Regions from separate parts of the Homo sapiens genome. Here all the other regions are linked to region 1. Evidence: fine-mapped expression QTL. A gene starts in region 1. Each other region holds a variant in brackets. All regions are shown on one strand. Distances are from middle to middle. Region 1 holds the start of SREK1IP1 (SREK1 interacting protein 1). Region 2 overlaps SREK1IP1 (SREK1 interacting protein 1). Region 3 overlaps SREK1IP1 (SREK1 interacting protein 1).

What was found. PIP is the estimated chance that this variant, and not a neighbour inherited with it, causes the effect.
Region 2: its variant is fine-mapped to the expression of SREK1IP1 in whole blood (TOPMed, PIP 0.97).
Region 3: its variant is fine-mapped to the expression of SREK1IP1 in whole blood (INTERVAL, PIP above 0.99).

Annotation. Positions count from the first base shown.
Region 1 is chr5:64,765,069-64,771,719 of GRCh38, reverse strand. It overlaps SREK1IP1 (SREK1 interacting protein 1), which reads left to right and starts at 3,029. Exons shown (of 5, transcript NM_173829.4): 1 at 3,029-3,215. The coding sequence starts at 3,203. It overlaps CWC27 (CWC27 spliceosome associated cyclophilin), which reads right to left and starts at 2,790. Exons shown (of 14, transcript NM_005869.4): 1 at 2,532-2,790. The coding sequence starts at 2,573. LOC124900985 (a long non-coding RNA gene) reads left to right here and starts at 3,224. Exons shown (of 4, transcript XR_007058787.1): 1 at 3,224-4,765; 2 at 6,599-6,651. RefSeq lists enhancers at 2,294-3,018, 2,737-3,056, 3,207-3,296, 2,448-3,647, 3,019-3,745 and silencers at 2,984-3,278, 5,341-5,480.
Region 2 is chr5:64,721,394-64,728,044 of GRCh38, reverse strand. SREK1IP1 (SREK1 interacting protein 1) reads left to right here. Exons shown (of 5, transcript NM_173829.4): 5 at 3,472-6,651. The coding sequence ends at 3,661. Among named protein-coding and RNA genes, the nearest start is that of SHISAL2B, 34 kb to the right of the region's middle. The variant A/C (reference allele first, on the strand shown) is at 3,556.
Region 3 is chr5:64,741,047-64,747,697 of GRCh38, reverse strand. It overlaps SREK1IP1 (SREK1 interacting protein 1), which reads left to right. Exons shown (of 5, transcript NM_173829.4): 3 at 6,498-6,641. Among named protein-coding and RNA genes, the nearest start is that of SREK1IP1, 24 kb to the left of the region's middle. The variant T/G (reference allele first, on the strand shown) is at 3,654.

The sequences.
Region 1 (6,651 bases):
GATAATATCATGTTTCTTATAAACATATATGCAAATATACTTATAAAGCCATTTTGATTTTCAAGATATTTAAAAACTAAGTGTGTACAACAGGAAGACAGACCCCTATCATTTGAAAGCAACATTACACTAAGTGAAGAAGCCAGACACAATTTAGAATAAGTGATCATAATATGTGGAAATTTCATCTTCAGGGAATTACCTCTTATGCTTAAAAACTTTCTGTCAAGTACTACATTTCTTTGCCTCATCTTCAGGGGCTAGGGTTACAGCAAAACACAGAACATTTATGGACAACCAGGGACCAAGCACTGGTATCATGTATCAATTACTTCCCAAGCTGATACTAAGTTCTTTGAAGGGAGGAATTTTGTCCCATTTACTCTGAATGTCTCTGTACGCTTTCAGCACCTAATGTACCATTAGATAGTAAAGGCAATAAACATTCGTTGAACAGACTTATTACATGTGCTTCAAATTCTTCACAGACCAAATTTTTGTCCACACTCTTAACCTTACAGAACTTAGAAGCTTTAATATCTTTGATGAGCCTTATGCTGGAAAAAGTCCCAAGCTGTTTTTGGATGAAAACTTGGGCCCTTATGTTATCATTCAGCCTATTTCTGTTCAGAAGATAGTATTTATCACATTTTGTAATTAAACATTTATTTGCATGATTATTCAGTCAATGTATACTTCACTCAACTAACTCATGACAACTGAGTCAATGCTGTGTTTTCTTTCCATTGTCTCCCTAAAACCTAGCATAGAGCCTGGCAATTGATTTGCTCAATCATTATTTGTTGAATGAATAATCTATTCAGGAATGTATCCTTGTTAAAGCTTTTCATCTATATGACCATGTCAAATCTTGCTTTAGAATAAAGCAATTAAGTCTGTCCTTGACCAGCAGTATAACCTCAAACTCACTGATGCTTAATACTTCTCAAAAACTAAGAAAAATATAGTATTAATTCATCCATCCATTCATTTATTCAATACCTATCTGAACTCCTTCTATCATGTATCAAGTACTGTTCCAGATGCTTGTCTCTGCCCTTATGTTCCTTACATTCTATAGGGGGAAGGTAGGAGGAAGGATACAGTAATACTAAATAATTAATAAATACCATGAAAAAAACTAAAAAGGTTAAGGGGGCCAGAGACTGCTGGGATGCAAGGCATGATTGAAGTTTGCTATTTCATAGAAAGTAGATAAGAAAGGGCTCTTTGCTAAGGTCAACACTTGATTAGACAGAGGAACAGCAAGTGTGAAGGCCCTGTCTGGCAGGATGGTAAATCTATTCAATCTCTACCAGTGTTTATTAACTGGGGGTGATATTGCCCTCAAGAAACATTTGGAAATAGGAGGAGGTAGGTATTTTGGGTTTTCACATTGATATTAAATAAGATAGGTGAGGGGTGGGATGGACATACTAATCTACAATGCCCAGGAGAAGTTCAAACAAAGAATTGAAAGAATTGGTCTGCCCATAAAATATCCATTACATTTTTGCTGGGAATTACAGCATTTTTGGTTTCACTTTTAAATTGCTCTCATTACATTATCAAATGTCAATGAATAAAAGACTGTATAAATTATTTATGATGCAATCATGTAACAAACAGGATGGTATGTTGTGTAAATTTAGCTTATCTTAATTCAACTATATACTTCCAATCTCATTTTCTCCAATATGCTGATTCATCAAATTTCATATGTGATATAAGCTAGGTCTCAATTTAAGAATTCAGGTGACACTTATTCCACAACAGACTCTTCTGCCTTGTACAGCATACAAACATCTTGGATGGGAATTGGCATACATTAGCCATCAAATCAATCAGAGAAACCTTTCCCCATTCTAATGTGGTAATAGTCCCCATTTCCCACTTTCTCTGACTGACAGTCATCTCAGGTTTTAAAACCAGCTCAAAAGATATCTTTTCCATGAGGCTTTTCCTAACTTCCCCAGTTGTTCACTACTCAGTACCGCCATAGCAACCTGGTCTCTTCTCCACAAGCACGCTTATCAGACATACAGGCTTTTGTTTACCTGTCTGTCTCACAAACTAAACTATAAGCTTTTCCGGGAAAACAACTACCTTACCCATCCATCTTTGTATCTCCGGCGCCTAGTACAGTGCCCAGTGCCTCGCAGGCGTTCAATTAATGATTGTAGAAGAAATGGAGAATGAATGACCTTAGTTAAGCAAAGAATATATCAAACTCAAAAATGTCTGTTTAAAAACCTAAGACCCCAGAAATCGGCTGCATGAGTTGGGTTAAAGCATTAAATAGGACCGGAATGCTGGTAGGTAGAGAAATCTCCACTTGACTTCTTCAAGTACATCCTGAAAAGTACCAACATCAGTGTTTCGATGCAACATTGTCCACATGCAGGAGTAAAGACAACACTTCTCGTGGTCTCTTCCTACCACGAGATCCTGAAACCCACTCCCCACCCCAAATCCGGGAAATCTCACTTTGGGGATCCCAGGACCCCAAGTTCCCTAGATGAGGCTCTCACCTTCCCATTCGTGGGAGGCTCCTGGATGTAGATGTTGCTCATCTTGGTCAGTACAAAGGACTCTGCTCCTTACGGGGGATGAGAGCGGCCGGCCGGCCACTAAAGCTGTCCGCCTACGAGTACACTCTTCCTTAAGTCCAGTGGTGCAGGAAAGCTTCAGTTTGTCAATATCACGCAAGACAGGGACACCAAACACTACCCCTGCCCAAAGGAGCCCCTCACGGACGCCGCCATGTTGTTACCGGACCCGAGCACCGCTAACCCTGAGAAGGGTTATTCCAATGTACTCCAGGGAACGAGAAAAGTCCGTAAAGTTACCATAGCTTAATGTTATTTATGTTATTTGTATTACAATATTAGAAGGGACACTTCATAAGTGTTGGCGGTGTTTACACTACTCTCGTGTGCAGATCAAACTAACTCCCCCTCCAAAACTATCAGTAATGGTTCGGACCATGTGTCTTCTGCAATATGACTCGTCCGGAAACTGCATCCGCATCTACTGGTTCTGCCGTCGCTAGAGGCGTACAGGCCCTTCCCGACCGTAGCGAGGGTGCTGCTGCGCTGGGGGAAGGAAAACGCCGCTTTGACTGTGCCTTGTTCTCACAGCTGGCGGGAAGCAAGCGCCTTTTCGAAAGCCAGAGGCTCGAGTTACCCCTCTTACCACCGTCATGGCAGTCCCAGGTAAGGAGCAATTACAGGGCCTCTGCGTCCGAGCTCCGAAGGGAGCGCAAGGGAGGGTAGGGTAGGGTGCGGCGTGTACGGAGCAGCGCCCATGGGGATTTAGGCGGAGGCCTTAAAATTCACAGGTTTGTTTTGTTTACATGAAAAAGTTTACACTCCAAACATAAACTCTGAAGGAAAGAAAATAACTATCTTCCCCCCAGGAGCCAAGCCCCAGCTGCTTGGGATTACAGGGAAAGTGTATTGTGGAAGGGAGGGAGGAGGGAGAGACTGTAACTGTAGGCCTAAGGGGGCAAGCGGCCGAGAAAAACTACCTTAACTGTGGTATGGCTTAAAACTAAAACTTGAAGTGGGAACACTTGGCCGACCCAGGTAACCGGAGGCATCGTTTGTCTTAGAAGTCGCTAGGACCCACCGGGTGTGCGGGTTCTACTCCTAGCTCTTCCTGTTGTATGTAGCTGCTCCGTGGCCATAGATTGGTCGCTTTGTGCTTCTGGGCCTCAGTTTCCTTATAAAAAGAAGGAGCTTTGTTGAATTATATATAAGATTTCTTCTAACTCTCAAATTCTATGTCCAGAAGTTACTGACCTAAAAACGGTGAACTCTGCAGAATAATTACTTAAAAGATTTTCTCGTCCTCAACTACCAGCTTACTTGGAAGTTCTAGTAGCGGAAAGCATCTCCTCAAACCAGCTTTGCCACTGCAGAACACTGATTGCAGGAGACATTTTCAGAAATACACACTTCTCCACCCCACCTCCCAACTTGGAAATTCCCAGCGCACTTTAGTAATAGAAAAGATTCTATTCTATTAGAATAGAATACTATGAATTGCTATAGAATTACTATGAACTATAGAATTACTATGGTTCAGAACCCTAACTTTGTTTAAACCTGCACTTCCCAGTATTATTTGACCAGGTTCTTTATTCTGTGGCAGCCTTTTTGAACCTCCTTCTACAGATAGCTGTTATTGGAACACTGTGCTTTTGTACTAACTGAAGTTTGCGGAGGAGTACATCTGGAGCTGTGAGAGAGGAAATGTACACTCTTTATTAAGCCTACTGTGTGCCAGGCACTGGTACTGGGCATTGGAAATACAGTGGTGAGCAAGGTAGACATGGTTACGCTTCACACAGAACTTAGAATTTAGCAGTGAAGAGAGAGAAATTTACAGAAAGTGGGACAAGTGCCATGGCAAGGAAAATACAAGACCTTAGCACAAAGTAAGGGCACCAAACACATACAGGATGGGCAGAAGGACTTTCCAAAGGAGGTAGCACTTAGGAGGAGATCTGAATTGTAGGAGGGGTGGCTTGAAGGGAGAGGAGACTGCAGTCGGAGGAACTGGATACGTAAAGGAAGAGGAAATATGTGAAAAGAGGAAATGAAAGATGTTTTCTATGGATGGAACTCAAATACAGATGGGAGATAAGTGAGAAATTAAGTACAGAGGTAGTAGCTGTAGCTAATATTGACTAATATTTATGTGTCAAATATGTCAGAATGAAAGATGTTTTCTGTGGATAGAACTCAAATACAAATGGGAGGTAAGTGAGAAATTAAGTAGATAGTAACTGTAGCTAATATTGACTAATATTTATAAGTCAAATATGTCAGATACTATATCAAACATTGTATTCTATCTCATTTAATATTCACAACTGCACTGTGAAATGAGTATTAATATTCCCATTTTACAGATGAGGACACTGAGGGACAAAGAAATCAAGTAATTTGCCTATTATGAGACAGCTGGAAAGCAAGAAGTCAGTCTGGTTCCTCTAGACTGTGTACTTCATTCATTTTGCCATCGTATAGGATAACTTACAAGGTAGTTTCCAGCTCTTTAAGGACCTGTAGGCCATGACAAGAGGTTTGGCATTATCCTACAGATGGCAGGAAGCCATTTAAGGATTTTAAAGCAGATTCACATTTTGGAAAGATAATTCTGGCTAGAAAGTAGATTGGAGACAAAGTTTACCAGTTAGGAGTAATTCTGGTGAGTTATAATGATGTGTGGCTGAGATGTGGTCTCAATAGGTAAGGAGAGAAGTGGATAAATTGAAGATACATTTTTGGTGGTAGAGTCACTAGGAGTTGGTGATTGATTCAGTGTGGGTAGGTAAAAGAGGAAATGAGGTTTACCTGGGTTTTACTGTTAAGCAATTGGGTGGGGCTGTTTACTGACATGACAACACCTCACAAGGGGCAGGGGTTAAGGGGATGATGATGACATCCAGTCTGGGGCTTGTTGTGTTGAGGTTAGTCAGACATAGGAATGCAAATAGTTAATAGTAAGAGATATAATTTGTAGCTTAGGAAAGAAGTCAGAGTCAAAGACAATGATTTGGGTGTTACCCACACACATAATAGGAGGTAAGGCTATGGGAGTGGAGCACTCTGCTTAGATGGTGTGTAGAATGTGAAGGGAAGGTCTGTGGCTGAAGCCTGGTCAACATCTAAGAGGCCAGCAGCGAAAGATAAACCTACACAGTAGATTGCCTAGGCATCCTGATAGGCCGAGTCAGCTCTAGTGATCTTTATACCACACAGCTGCACCCAAAGTTGACCTGTTATCACTGCTCATTTCATTACTTGAGCAAGCCTTTTGGGCACCTGTGTGATATGGGCACACTGGAGGACACAGTGTCATAGTCTGTGCCCTCATAAAACTTTAAGCAGTACATGAAAATGTGCTACTTAAGAAAGGGGACAAAAGTGATTTTTTAAGGCCTCATTAAAATTCTCTTAAACTTAGACCAGTGTTATAGATATGTTAACCTTCTTTCAATTCAAAATAGTGCTTCAAAGTATAATAATGTTAAATTGTGCCATTAAGCTAGATGGCAAGCTATAAACTGTTTAAACCCAGCAATAATTGAGATAATAGGTGTGACAGTGCTGTAAAAGTACAATGCAAGTGTCATTAGAAAATACAGATACAGAAAATCGTAAGATAATTTCTTAGATGATCGATCCAGACAGGGTATTAAAGGAAAATAGGGCTAATCTAAACTTTTCAAGGTTATCATCAAGGAGGACAAGTATTATGTTAGGCTCTTTAATTTTAGGTTTAATGGATTCAGTTTGGCATTTCTTGGGGTGGTCCTGCTAGTGATTATGACAAGGTATGATTATAAAGTAACAAGGCTGCTTTCTGCAAACCACACATAAAAATCAGCCTTGTCTGTTTTATGATCATGTGCTTCACCCGTGTTTCCATAGCATTGTGTATAAGCGTATACCATTATGTAGGTAATGCAATGAAATGTAGGCATTTAGGAAAATCTTACTCTTAGTTGTTATTATAGAAATAATATTTGATCACAGGTTTCAGTGAAATTTACTTTCTTTGAAAAAACTGCTTTTCCCATTCACAGTTGTTGAAATTACCTCCAACATTCATGTCAGTGATTCACCACTCTCCATGAAG
Region 2 (6,651 bases), 44 kb after region 1:
ATTTTATTTTTTGTGTATAATAGTTAATTTAATATTTTTTCTTCAACAACTAAGCTTTTCATTGAGCTTAAGTTTAAACTCTTAATATATATTTTGTCTTCATATACATGAAATTGACTAAAATATTTGTATTCTTGTAATATTACCATGGCTAATAAATTAACTTATTAATAGAATTTAATAGAACTTGTCATGCTGTCCAGGTGCGATGGCTCATGCCTATAATCCCAGCACTTTGAGAGGTCAAGGCAGGAGAATGGCTTGAGCCCAGAAGTTTGAGACAGGCTTGGGCAACATAGGGAGACCTCATCTCTGCAAAAAGTAAAAGAAAAATTATCCAAGTGTGGTGGCATGTACCTGTGTTCCCAGCTATGTGGAAGGCTGAGGTGAGAGGATTGCTTGAGCCCAGGAGACATGATCACACCACTGTACTCCAGCCTGGGCAACACAGCAAGACCCTATCTGCCCCCCGCCCACCAAAAAAAAAAAAATATATATATATATATATATATATGTAATTATATGCACATACACACACCTTTGTATTTATATGTATTTAGCCTGACAGTTTCATATATATATATATATATGGTGGCTGATGAGGGTTGTGAAAGACCTGAAGGAATTTTTAGCATCACAACTTCCTTCCAGTCTTCGGCCACCTGTGCATTTTTACTATTAACTCTTTTAAAAACTAACTGGTTAAAGAAGTTATTGAAAGTAGTAAGTGGCCACTTCTCTTGTTAATGCGTGCAGTTTCATTCATACTAGCATAAATTTGCACATACAGGCATTTTTTAAAAGCACTTAACCATAATTATTTCTAGTTTAGACCCAGTTCTCATACAGAATAGGTTGTAGAAACCAGGGGCTGCCACTTTGTAGTTTTTATAGAGCATTTAATACATGTATTTTAATATTTCAGGTATCTTATAAATTGGAAAAGTAGCCCACTTTCAAGCGTTAGGAGTTAACTAATAATCTTTAATATAAAAACAAATAGGAATTTAGAGCTCAGGGTTTTCTGTTAATGTATTATTAAATCATTTATTCTAGCACAGGAAGATGGATTGCTCACAGGAAATGATATCTGATAGTCTTCCAAATTCTAATACAGATAGTTCCCAATTTATGTGGTTTGATATGATCTTTCAACTTTATGATGGTGCAGTAGAAATGTACTTCAAGTACCCATACAACCATTCTATTTTTCACTTTCAGGACAGTATTCAATAAATTACATGAGATATTCAATGCTTTATTATAAAATAGGCTTTGTGTTAGATGATTTTGCCCAACTAGAGGCTAATGTAAGTGTTCTGAGCATATTTAAGGGCAGCCACGTTAAGCTATGATGTTCAGTAGGTTAGCTGTATTTTGTGTATTTTCAGCTTCAGATAGATTTATCAAGGCGTAACTCCATCATAAGTTGAAGTACATCTGTATATTTCTTTTTTTTTTTTTTTTTTGAGACAGAGTCTCGCTCTGTTGCCCAGGCTGGAGTCCAGTGGCACAGTCTCAGCTCACTTCAAGCTCCGCCTCCCGGGTTCACTCCATTCTCCTGCCTCAGCCTCCCCAGTAGCTGGGACTACAGGTGCCCACCACCATGCCCGACTAATTTTTTTGTATTTTTAGTACAGACAGGGTTTCACCGTGTTAGCCAGGATGGTCTCAATCTCCTGACCTTGTGATCCGCCTGCCTCAGCCTCCCAAATATTTTTTATAGTAACAGATTATTTATTTGGGCCTCTTTACCTTGAGCATCACAAACCTGAAATTAAATTAACTTTTCTGTGCACACTTAGCAGAGATAGTGCCCCCTGAAAGTGTTGCTATGCCACAGCCTGAAATTTTGCCTTAAAAAGGAGACTTCAGGCCAGGCACGGTGGCTCACTCCTATAATCCCAGCACTTTGGGAGGCTAAGGTGGGTCGATCACCTGAGGTCTGGAGTTTGAGACCAGCCTGGCCAACACAGTGAAACCCCATCTCTACTAAAAATACAAAAAAAATTAGCTGGTGGATTACAGGTGGGTACCTGTAATCCCAGCTACTTGGGAGGCTGAGGCAGGAGAATTGCTTGAACTCGGGGGAGCGGAGGTTGCAGTGAGCCGAGATCACGCCATTGCACTCCAGCCTGGGCAACAAGAGTGAAACTCTGTCTCAGAAAAAAAAAAAAAAAAAAGAAACAAACAAAAAAAAAAACTTCAGGACCAAAAAGCTAAAGAAAAAAGTGCAGGCAGGGAAGAAGCTTTAGTCAGAATCCAGAGGTCAAGTCAAACAGGGTCTTTAAAAGAGGAAAATAGACAAGATTTGAGAATAACAACTGAAGAGGCAAGGGTGCAGGAGAATACATGAGAAAATAAGCTTTAACAGATGATTGGAAGTCTAAGTAAGTAGACAAACAAGGAGGAAAAAGGAACACAACATTACAAAAATAAGGGAAAACTCGGAGTCACTAAAGGAGGAAGGCAGTCAAGGAATTCACACACTATACAGACACAAAATAGCCTTGGAGCCCTGTAGTCTCCTGAATTTACATTGGCACCTCCTTTATATCCGTCTCAGATTTTCTTAGTTTGAGTTTTAACTCCTAATATTTAGATCACTAAACTAACTCTTTAGATACCTTTGTTTACATTTTAAATTAACTCAGTTTCTGTCTTGTCACTCATATTTTGAGTTTGAGTATAGGTAGAATGTTGCACATCTCTTTAAGTAAGATCTTAAAAGATAGGGTTTTCTGTTTTTTTCTTTTTCTTTTCCTTTTTTTTATGAATATTAGAGGAAGGAATTGAACCAATTTTTTCAATTTAGTATTAGAGTAATATTTTTCAAAAGCACAATGATAACCCATCCTTTTTCATTTATATATAGCATAAAAGCATCCTTTTGTAACTAATGAAAATTATTTTGTAATGCAAGTATTCATCTGTATCACTCTCCGTCTAGAGGGATCAAGTACTTGAAAAATCAGAAGAATTACCAAAAGTGCTTTTATTTTGCTAACTTTCAGCTTTCATTCATTCATATGAACGTACAATTATAGCCCTTTAAAATAGAGAATTGCAACTTTTGAGACACTTTTAAGAAAATATGCGAAGTTATTGTATACACAAGTGAATATAATAAGGCTTGGTGAATGCCCCTTTGTTTGCCTTTTAGGATTTTGAATGATATGACTGCATGAAAAACCAAAAATCACAGAAAAATAATTTCATCCTTATTGACTTTAAAACTCATTACATTAGTATTGAGTGGAATAGATACTAGTTTTGTTGGTTTCTGTGACCAAGCAGCAAAAATTCTAAATTCATCGTTTTAAGGGAATGCAAATATATGAAGCATTTTTTAAGTTTATGTTTATACTCCCTACCTTACTCCAAGAAGAATTTAAGGCAGTTCAAATCCCACTTAAATTTATCTATCAGTCATAAATGCAATTCTCAGTCAGTATGTATTATTATCCATAGGTCTTACTCATCCAGTTCCACTGAAGAGGACACTTCAAAACAAAAGAAACAAAAATATCAGAAGAAAGAAAAGAAAAAAGAAAA[A/C]AAGAGTAAATCAAAAAAAGGGAAACATCACAAAAAGGAAAAAAAGAAGAGAAAAAAGGAAAAGCATTCTTCTACACCTAATAGTTCTGAATTCTCCAGAAAGTAACTGAGACTTTGGCTTAAGCCGTTAAATTTAAAAATTTGTTTTTAAAACGTGTTTGCCCTTCCTTGGAATTTGCTATATATTATGCTTTGCAATAAATCACAGCCTTTTCCATATAGACATTTTTCGTATTTGGGACCATTATCCCTCTGGCAATATATTTTTAATGTGCTGTAACTGTAAAGTATTAAATCAGTCTTGTTACTTGATAGCCATGCCCCAAGTATAGCTATTTGTGTATACTAAACACATCATTTTTGGTATTTGTGTCTCTGTGTGTTTGGCTAGTGTTACTACTTCATAAGTTCATTGTAAAATGGCTTTACTGCCATCAACATGGGTCATCTACCTAGCAGTTAATGAGTATTGCTGGATCAGGTGTCCACCTTCCAATGATGAAGCAAGGTAAGGGGTAATGTTTTGCTCTTGACACAGAGAAATTTAATAGCTTTATGTACTAAAATATAATATCTTTTAAAGATAGTGAAATTCTTCAGTTTTTTAAATCTCTAGGGATTTTTTTTCAATGTTGTAGAAGATGCAGCTGCTTAATGGTCTTGACTAGGACTTTTTAAATGAATGGTGTCTGCAGGTAGATGATCATGAAAATATCTCTAACAAAGTTTTACTCTTCTATGAAATGCAGAATTTCTAGTACCTGCCTCCTTTGTTTTTGTAATAATTAAAATACTTCTTGTATAAAGAGATTAGTTCAGCCTGTTAGTAAGTCTGCAGAGATGATGCTGAGTTGGTTGTGATTTTTAGAATAGACTCCTGGGTTGTTTTACAAATGTGCCATATTGGCATGTCTTACAGTGATACCTCAAACACAGAAATTTTTATTTAGGAAGATAGCTAAATCTTTATTAGAACTGATTTTTATTGTATTCAGTATAAATTTTATGAAGCTTGTTTCTATGAGTACTGTGGAAAATTTTATAAATGTGAGCATATATATTTATTTTGTCTGACATAATTTGTAGTTTTAAAGCAAGTTTCACACTGAACTTAACGTTTTCATAAATGACCAGTTTGGGATGTTTCTCTCTTTTACTTTAGTGGCAAACTCAAGAGTAAAAAGTGTCAAAAAAAGAATTGAGAATTTTATTCTGTACTTTTTAAAATTTAAGAGCCAGGGAGTTGCATCATGAAAGCCTTTGTATAATAATGGAAATTTTATATGGGTAAGCATTTTCAAACACATATTAGTAGATACGTTTTTTAAATTTCTATTTTCACATTGATCAGTGTTACTTTGCTTAATACTTAGGTAGCCCTTATGTCCACTAAAGTAAATGCTTATGTTGTAGAAGCATCGAACATCAACCAATGTCATGGCACAGCACCAAAGATTGCAAATACCTCACTATGGTGCGCTTAGAAATTTTCAAATTGATAACCTATAGATACGGCTGCAGGTGAATTCATGATAGTGAAATCAGCTAAGTATACTTAACCTCACAGGCTAGAAAGGTTTACTGATTCTTGTTTCACCTGGCACCCAATGTGGATACCCTCAGTAAGACTCAGGGAGCCTTATAACTCCTCTTAACATATGCTTACCCATGCTTAAATTCTAGGGAAGCTGTATCCACAGCCCTCTGCATTGCAGCCATGAGAGCTCTCACGCTTTCAACCCTTCCATAACCTAATTTAGTCATTTGGGCCTCTCAAAAGGAAATGCTTTTGTTTAAATAGGTCAGTCAGTTACTGGGAGAAAAAATACAGAGCCAGTAGGTTTTTAGGGATTTGTTTTGCCTTTGCTGCTAGTTTTTTGAAAATATTCTTCGATTATCAAGATTTTAAAAATCGGTTTTTAATATAAAGCTTTTTTAAAAACGAGGCTGGCACAAGTGCAGTGGTGTTTCTTTACTCCCACTGCTTGACTTGACTAGCCTTGAAAAAATAACAGTAAAATAAAATATTAAAAAATAATTAGAAAATGCTACAAAGGCAATGACCTTATTCCATTGAGTAAGATAGTTAAAAATGATAGTAATTGTAGTGAAATAGTTAATTACTTGTAAGTTTTATTACTGTTAATTGTAGAGATTATAAATTGGCTCATTAGGTTTCTGAATGGTGACACAATAATGACTGAGAAGAGCAAAAGTCAGTCCTCGTTAACTAATGTAGTATGCAAATTAAAATATTTTAATGATCAGTAATTTTCCCCCCAGAAATGATGTTGGCATTTCTAAGTAAATTTCCCATAATTTTAGCATAGTTTATGAAATTGAATAAAAATTTATTTTCACTGAAGTAATTTTCTTCTAATATGATATTATTATTGAGATTGGATGCAAATCTCATGAATATGTTTTAGAAGAAAATTAATGAAATTCCCTCCCAGGCAGTATGTACCAGAAGGAAAACTGAATTTAGCAGTAAAACAGTCCTGGTCATTCTAACTACCTGTATGATCTTGAACAAAGTCACTTAGTTTCCCTGGGCCTTGGTGTCTTTCGTCTATAAAATATTGTACCAGATTATCTCTGAAATCACTTCAAGGTTTAATATATATAATTATCAATATTTTAAAATTCAAGCAATATTCACTTTAGAAATTATTATAACATTCTATAATAGTAAAGGTTGAATTTATTAATATAATAAACACGTTCAACTTCTTCAAGCAGATAATTGATATTTGGTTCATATTCTTACAACCTAATGCATGTCATTTTCACCAAATGCAGGCAGAATTTATATTTAGGTTTGCATCTGGAACTAGATTATCTGGCACTTTATGGCCATTATTTTTGGGTTGATGGACCTTCTCACCACACAATTTCCCCCTTTTTTTTTTTTGCATATCATATGTTGGTTGATATTTCTCAGAGGTATCCCTATTTCTTCATACTTAATATACATCTCCATTTACATCTTTGACTCTCTGAGGTCAAAACAACAATAAATGAGAAGTAAAACAACTATATGTGTTTGTATTTACAACTGTATCTAAAATTATATAACCCTAGTTTACCTTCAGA
Region 3 (6,651 bases), 24 kb after region 1:
CTCTACCTCCCAAAGTGCTGGGATTACAGGCGTGAGCCACCGCGCCCGGCCGAAAAACTGCCAAACTGGTTTTCGTAACAGCTATACCATTTTACATTCCCACTAGAAATATACAAGGGCTCTAATTTCTCTACCTTTTTGCCAACACTCGTATTTTCCCTTTTAAAAAATAGCCATTTATGATCATAAGAAATGTATATTTGGTCATTGTCCCTGGTTCTTGACACAGAGCTTCTAAAACTCTTGGAATTTCCTGAGTGATACGGGTGATAGGAGCATCTTTTATTATTCATAGCATGCCCCTTTCAACCATGCCTGAGTTTATACTAATAAGGCGATTCTTGGGAGGCTCCTAGATAATTTCAGGATGGAGGCCATTTGCCAGAGGAACAATCCATGTGATTAGAAAGTTGGAGCTTTCAGCCCCACTTCCAGACCTCTAGAAAGGGGAGAAGGATGAGGAGCTAGAGATTGAATTTAATCACCAGTGGTCAGTGATTGAATCAATCACGCCTATCTAATGGGGCCTTCATAAAAACCCCTAAACTACAGGGTACAGAGAGCTGCTGGGTTTGTGAACACACAGAAGTGCCACGATTGTGGCACACAGAGAGCACATGGAAGCTCTATGCCCCTTCTTTTCCCTATGCCCCTTCTTTGCCCTACGCATCTCCTCCATTTGGCTGTTCTGAGTTCCGTGCTATATAATAAACAGGTAATAGTAAGTAAACTGTTTTGCTGAGTTCTGTGAGCCTTTCTAGCAAATTTTCGAATTTGAGAATGGGGTTATGGGAACCCCCTGACCTTATAAAGCTGGCTGGTCAGAAGTATGGGTGGCCTAGACTCGCTATAGGCATCAGAAATGGGAATAGTCTTGTGGGTCTGAGCCCTTAACTTGTGCTAACCCTGGGTAGTAACAGAATTGAATTGAATTGTTGAACACCCAGTTAGTGTCCAGAAAGTTGGAGAACTGGCTGTTGGTGTGGAAAAAACCCACACATTTGATGTCAGAAGCGTTGTGAGTAGAAACAATTCAGATCATCCTCATAGGTATGAAGTGGTACCTCATTGTGGTTTTGATTTGCATTTCTTTAATGACTAATGATGTTAAGTATCTTTTCATGTGCTTATTCACCATTTGTATTTCTTCTATAGACAAATGTCTATTCAAGGCCTTTGCTCATTTTTTAACTAGGTTGTGTTTTTGTTGAGTTATAGTTGTTCTTTATGTATTCTGGATATTAAGCTCTACCAGATAGATGATTTGCAAATATATTCTCCCTTTTCACTTTCCTGATAATTTTGCACAAAAGTTTTTAATTCTGACGACCATTTTATCAATTTTTTTCTTTTGTTGCTTGTGCTTTTGGTGTTAGATCTAAGAATCCATTGCCAAATCCAAGGTAATGAACATTTACTCCTATGCTTTCTTCTAAGAGCTTTATGGTTTTATATTTTATTTTATTTGACCCATTTTTAGTTAATTTTTACATATAGTCTGAGGTGAGGGGTCCAACTACATTCTTTCCCATGTGGAAAAGTTGTCTCTGTACCATCTGTTGAAAAGACAATTCTTTCCACACTGGATGGACTTTCACTCTTGCTAAAACTCAGTTCGCTATGTATATGTGGGTTTATTTCTGGACTTTCAATTCTATTCCATTGGTCTGTGTGTCTATTCTTATGCCAGTACCAACTGCTTTGATTGCTATAGATTTATAATAAATTTTAAAATCCAGAAGGGTGAATCCTCCACCTTTTTTTTTCTTCTACATTGTTTGCTGTAAGAACATTTAGATTGCTAGCCATAAGAACTGTAATTTGCAACACAGTTATTACCTAGGCTTCACTAACTTATTCCCCAATAGAAAAAAAAATCAGTAAGAAACTTTATTTGTAGTTTTGCAATTAATTTGTCTTATCACCTTAGGGTCGCTTTGCTTGAAGCAAAGCTAAAATGGATGTGGGGCAGAGACTGCTACCAGTATGGTCATTATTTAAGCATTTTATTTATTTTTAATATTCATTTCAATGAGAGGATGAGAGGTATTTGGGTACAAAGCTAGCTTAAGTACTGTAAAGATTGAGCATCAGGAGTTTTTTTTTTTTTTGAGGCAGTTTTACTCTGCTGCCCAGGCTGGAGTGCAGTGGCACAATCTCAGCTCACTGCAACCTCCACCTCCCAGGTTCAAGCAATTCTTGTGCCTTAACCTCCTGAGTAGCTGGAATTACAGGCATGCACCACCATGCCGTTAATTTTTGTATTTTTAGTAGAGACAGGATTTCGCCATGTTGGCCAAGCTGGTCTTGAACTCTTGGACTCAAGTGATCCACCTGCCTCAGCCTCCCTAAGTGCTGGTATTACAGGCATGAGCCACCATGCCCAGCCTGTATCATCAGGAGTTCTGATCAAAGAGGCAAGCCAAACCAACCTAGAAAGCCCACCATTCTGCTCCAAACATGTAACAATGCAGGAGGAAAAAAGTGTTATGTCAACAGCAACCACAACAACAAAAAAACCCAACTCAAAAGAATGAAAGGGAAATCCCCAGGTGCTAGACAAGAAAATGAGCTCAAAGTCAGAGCAGGGAATCTTACTGAAAACAGTGGATCCACAGGCCTACTGGGTAGGTGTTTAAGAGCTGTGGAGTGACACTTTCAAGCCCTGGGGATGGCAGTATGGCAAGGGTGGAGCCCCTCAAGTAAAGTCAGACTCCTTAAAAAGGCTGTGAAGCAGGGATTAGAAAAAATTTCACTCACTGAAAGAAGCAAGAATGCGTATAGTGTGTTTGAGTTCCCATAAGATAATTAGAAGAAAACAAATAAGAATTGGCAACCTCAGCCTATACCTTGTAAGTATATGTAAGTATGAGGAGTGAATTTACACGGCTTCCTGTGAAGCAGGAACTATTTTTCCCATGCTAAGAAATTAATGTTAAAAATTGTGCTGATATCAAATCAAATTTAAAAAATTAAGTCCAACTACGTGTTGTGATTAATAAAACTACACATAAAACTAAAAACTACACAGAAATTTTCAAAATAAAGGGACAAGGAAAAAACACATATTTGATTGAACATTGCTGATATTCCACTATTTTACCTACAAAAATGGCAATTTCATATTACCCAACGAATAATAAACAAAAGAGCACTAGTGGAACTGTTAGCGGTGGTGGGTATCCTAGTTACCGGTGGCGAATCCGTCCAGGTCTGCAGCAACCTCTATTCTTGCCACCTCAGAAGAAAGAATTCTACTGAGGGTCATGAGACAGAAGAAGAGACTGAGGCAAGTTTCAGAGCAGGAGTAGACATTTATTAAAAAGCTTTAAAGCAGGAACGAAAGAAAGGAAAATATACTTGGAAGAGGCCCAGACAGGCACCTTGAGGTTAAGTGCCCCAATTAACATTGAACCTAGCATTTTACATGCTGGCTTACTTCCAGCGTCTTGCACCCCTTTCCCTTCATTGTTCTCTTATGCATGGTGCCCTACCTGCGCTTGGGAGGTGAGCATGCACAGTGTGTTTACTGGAGTTGTACACATGTTCACCTGAGGCTTTTTCTTCCCTTTTCTGGTGGAATGCCCCCAGAAGGTCATACTCCTTCATTTTTGCCTCTTAATGCACATGCTTGTGTCCACTTGCCCGGTTCC[T/G]GAGATCTTATTGGAAGCTGCTGATTATCAATTTCAGGTATTTTTATCTGTTCAGAAACTGCTTCTCCCTGGCACTGGCTGTGACCAATTATCATTTTAGAGAGACAGTGTGACAGCTGCTGGACCATCACTTGATGGTTGCCTGATGTTCCTTTGTGAGTGGGGGAGCCCTCTCCTGCTCCACTCATGCCTGACTAGCTACCTACTATAACAGAACCATTATAATTTCAGACTTTTGAGGCAAAAGCACTACTGGTGATAAGTGGAAACTCACGAACAATAAACTAAAAAGATAAAGTAATGATCTTCAAAGCATTTACTAATGTCTCAAAATATATAGCAAAATCTGTGTTACAAGGAGAAATTGACAAATCTACCCTAGAGAAAACCTGGTGCATGCCCACAGAGATGTCTACAGCTGCTCATTTCAACATTATTTATAATAGCAATTATTGACAAATCAATACTTGTATAATTTTAAGTACTTCTATCAGAAGTTATTAGACAAAAAAATTAAGATGGAGAAGAGTTGAACAAGCAAACAGATATAGAACCCTTTTCAACAAATAACAATATATGGTTGTGTTGTTTAACAACAGGGATACATTCTGAGAAGTGTGTCATTAGGCAATTTCATCTTTGTGTGGAAATTATAGAGTGTACTTTCACAAACTTGGATGTATAGTCTACTACACACCTAGGCTACATGGTATAGCCTATTGTTGCTAGGCTATGAACCTGTATAGCATGTTACTGTACTGAATAGTGTAGGCAGTTGTAACACAGTAGTAAGTATTTGTGTGTCTAAACATATCTAAACATTGACAAGGAACAGTATTATTATCTTATGGGACCTGTGTTGTCTATGTGGTCCATCATTGACCTAAACACCATTATGCAGTATATGACTGTGTTTTCAAAATACATAACAAATCTTTCCTAAATTTACTACATCCTAGGCCACAAAAGAAGTCTCATCAAATACCAAAGAACTAATATCATACAGATCCCATTCTCTGATAACAGTGTAGTAAATTTAGAGATTGACAATAAACACAAAGCCTGAAAACTCCATATGTTTGGAAGCTAAAAAGAGTGCTTCTGAATGATTCATTTGTTAGGAAATCACAGTGAGGAAAACTTGTTCCAATAATATGGCAGACTAGACTAAGAAACAACTAAGAAACTTGTATAAAATGTGCAATACATATTTTAGATACATTAATATACTAGAAAAAAATAAAGAACTAAGAATATTCAAAGGCCAACAACCAAAGGAAAGGAGAAGTTCCAGGAATTAAGCCTTGAGGATATTTGATGAACCCTAGGCTCTTGAACTTCTATTTTTTATGGGCTGGCAGGATGTGGGGGATAAAAATAAGGCCCAGGGCCCTGCCCAAGCCAAATTGGAACTCTATTTAGAGAGTCTCTGGTATAAACCTAGGACTCCCAAAGGACTTCACCCACAAAATAAGAGACAACTGGAAACAACCCCTAGCATAGATTTGTAGTGAATCATTAGTGGATCGTGAAATGAATTATTTGATCACCATTAGCCTTGGTTGTTTTGAACATTGAATATAGAAATCTTTCAATTAACTTTTGTTTCAGTTTTTGTGTGTTAGGGTGTATTTATCCATGAATGTGTGTATGAGTGCACTTGTTTGCATTATTTTTTACTGTTCTCGGTTGTTAAGAAAACTTGAAAGCTGCTACCCTAAAGAAAACCTAGTACATGTGCACAAAGAGACATGTACAACTGCCCATTTAAACACTTTTTATAATAGCAAACTACTGGAAGCAACCTACGTTTCTATCAATAGTACAGCAAATAAATATAATTTTCATACAGTAGAACATTATCGATTAGATAAAATGAGCAAATTACACCTGTTATGTTAACATAGATAAATCACAAAATATTGGGTGGCAGGAAAAAATTGCAGGTATAGGTATAATTGAGTTTATTTTTTTAAGAATACATATCACAATATGTTGTTTGGGAATGATAGAGACCAACTTCAGTGCAGTTGCTTCAGAGGACAAAAAAAAAAAAATGGAATGAGATTGAGAAAGTGTTCCAAAAGTTGATACAAGCTCTCCAGCTGTGTGTGTGTGTGCGCACAGGCATGCGAGTGAGCTTTTTCCTTAAATGAATTGAAAGTGAGCATGACAAAATGTTAACATTTGGATGATAGGTATTTAGGTATTGGTTATATTATTTTCTTTACTTTTATAGTGTTTGTAATATTTGACTTTCTAAAACATATACATAAGTAGATAACTGTTGTAGTTTTCTTATAGGGTAGAGTCTTTAGGGAAATGATGCAAGAATTAAATGTTTAGGTATTCTTTAGTAAAGCACATTCAGTTATATTAATGCTTGTATATTATTATGCCAACTTTAATTAGATGAAAGGTATATAATTGCATGAGTACATTTGTCAAACTGGGAAAGAAAAGGTATGGGAAAGGAATATAATATAAAATCCCAAGTATGATGGTATTTTTTATTTACTTAGTTTAGTTAAAGATATTACTGTATTTTTAGAAAGGGAAATAGAATAACTCAATACTTTGAAATCCATAAGAAGTGGCCCCCAAAAATGCTTATTGAATAAGGAGTTCTGAGGAAGAAAGGAAAAAGTTCTTTCTGAGTATTGCATTCATGGAAAAGTATAGGGAAAATAACCAAACTACTACCAACTGAATAAAAGTTAAAGCTTTCTACATTATATTATTGAAATTGTAACTTACTGGTTACCGTGAGGCAGCAAAACATACAAAAATACATAATGTATCTATAGTTTTATCACTCACATTTTTTTTGTTTGTTTCACTTAGCTGGTCACCTGACTTTTGAATGCCGCAATTTTCTCCGAGTAGACCCTAAAAGGGACATAGTTTTGGATGTCAGCAGTACAAGTAGTGAAGATAGCGATGAAGAGAATGAAGAACTGAATAAATTGCAGGCATTACAGGAAAAAAGTAAGCAATA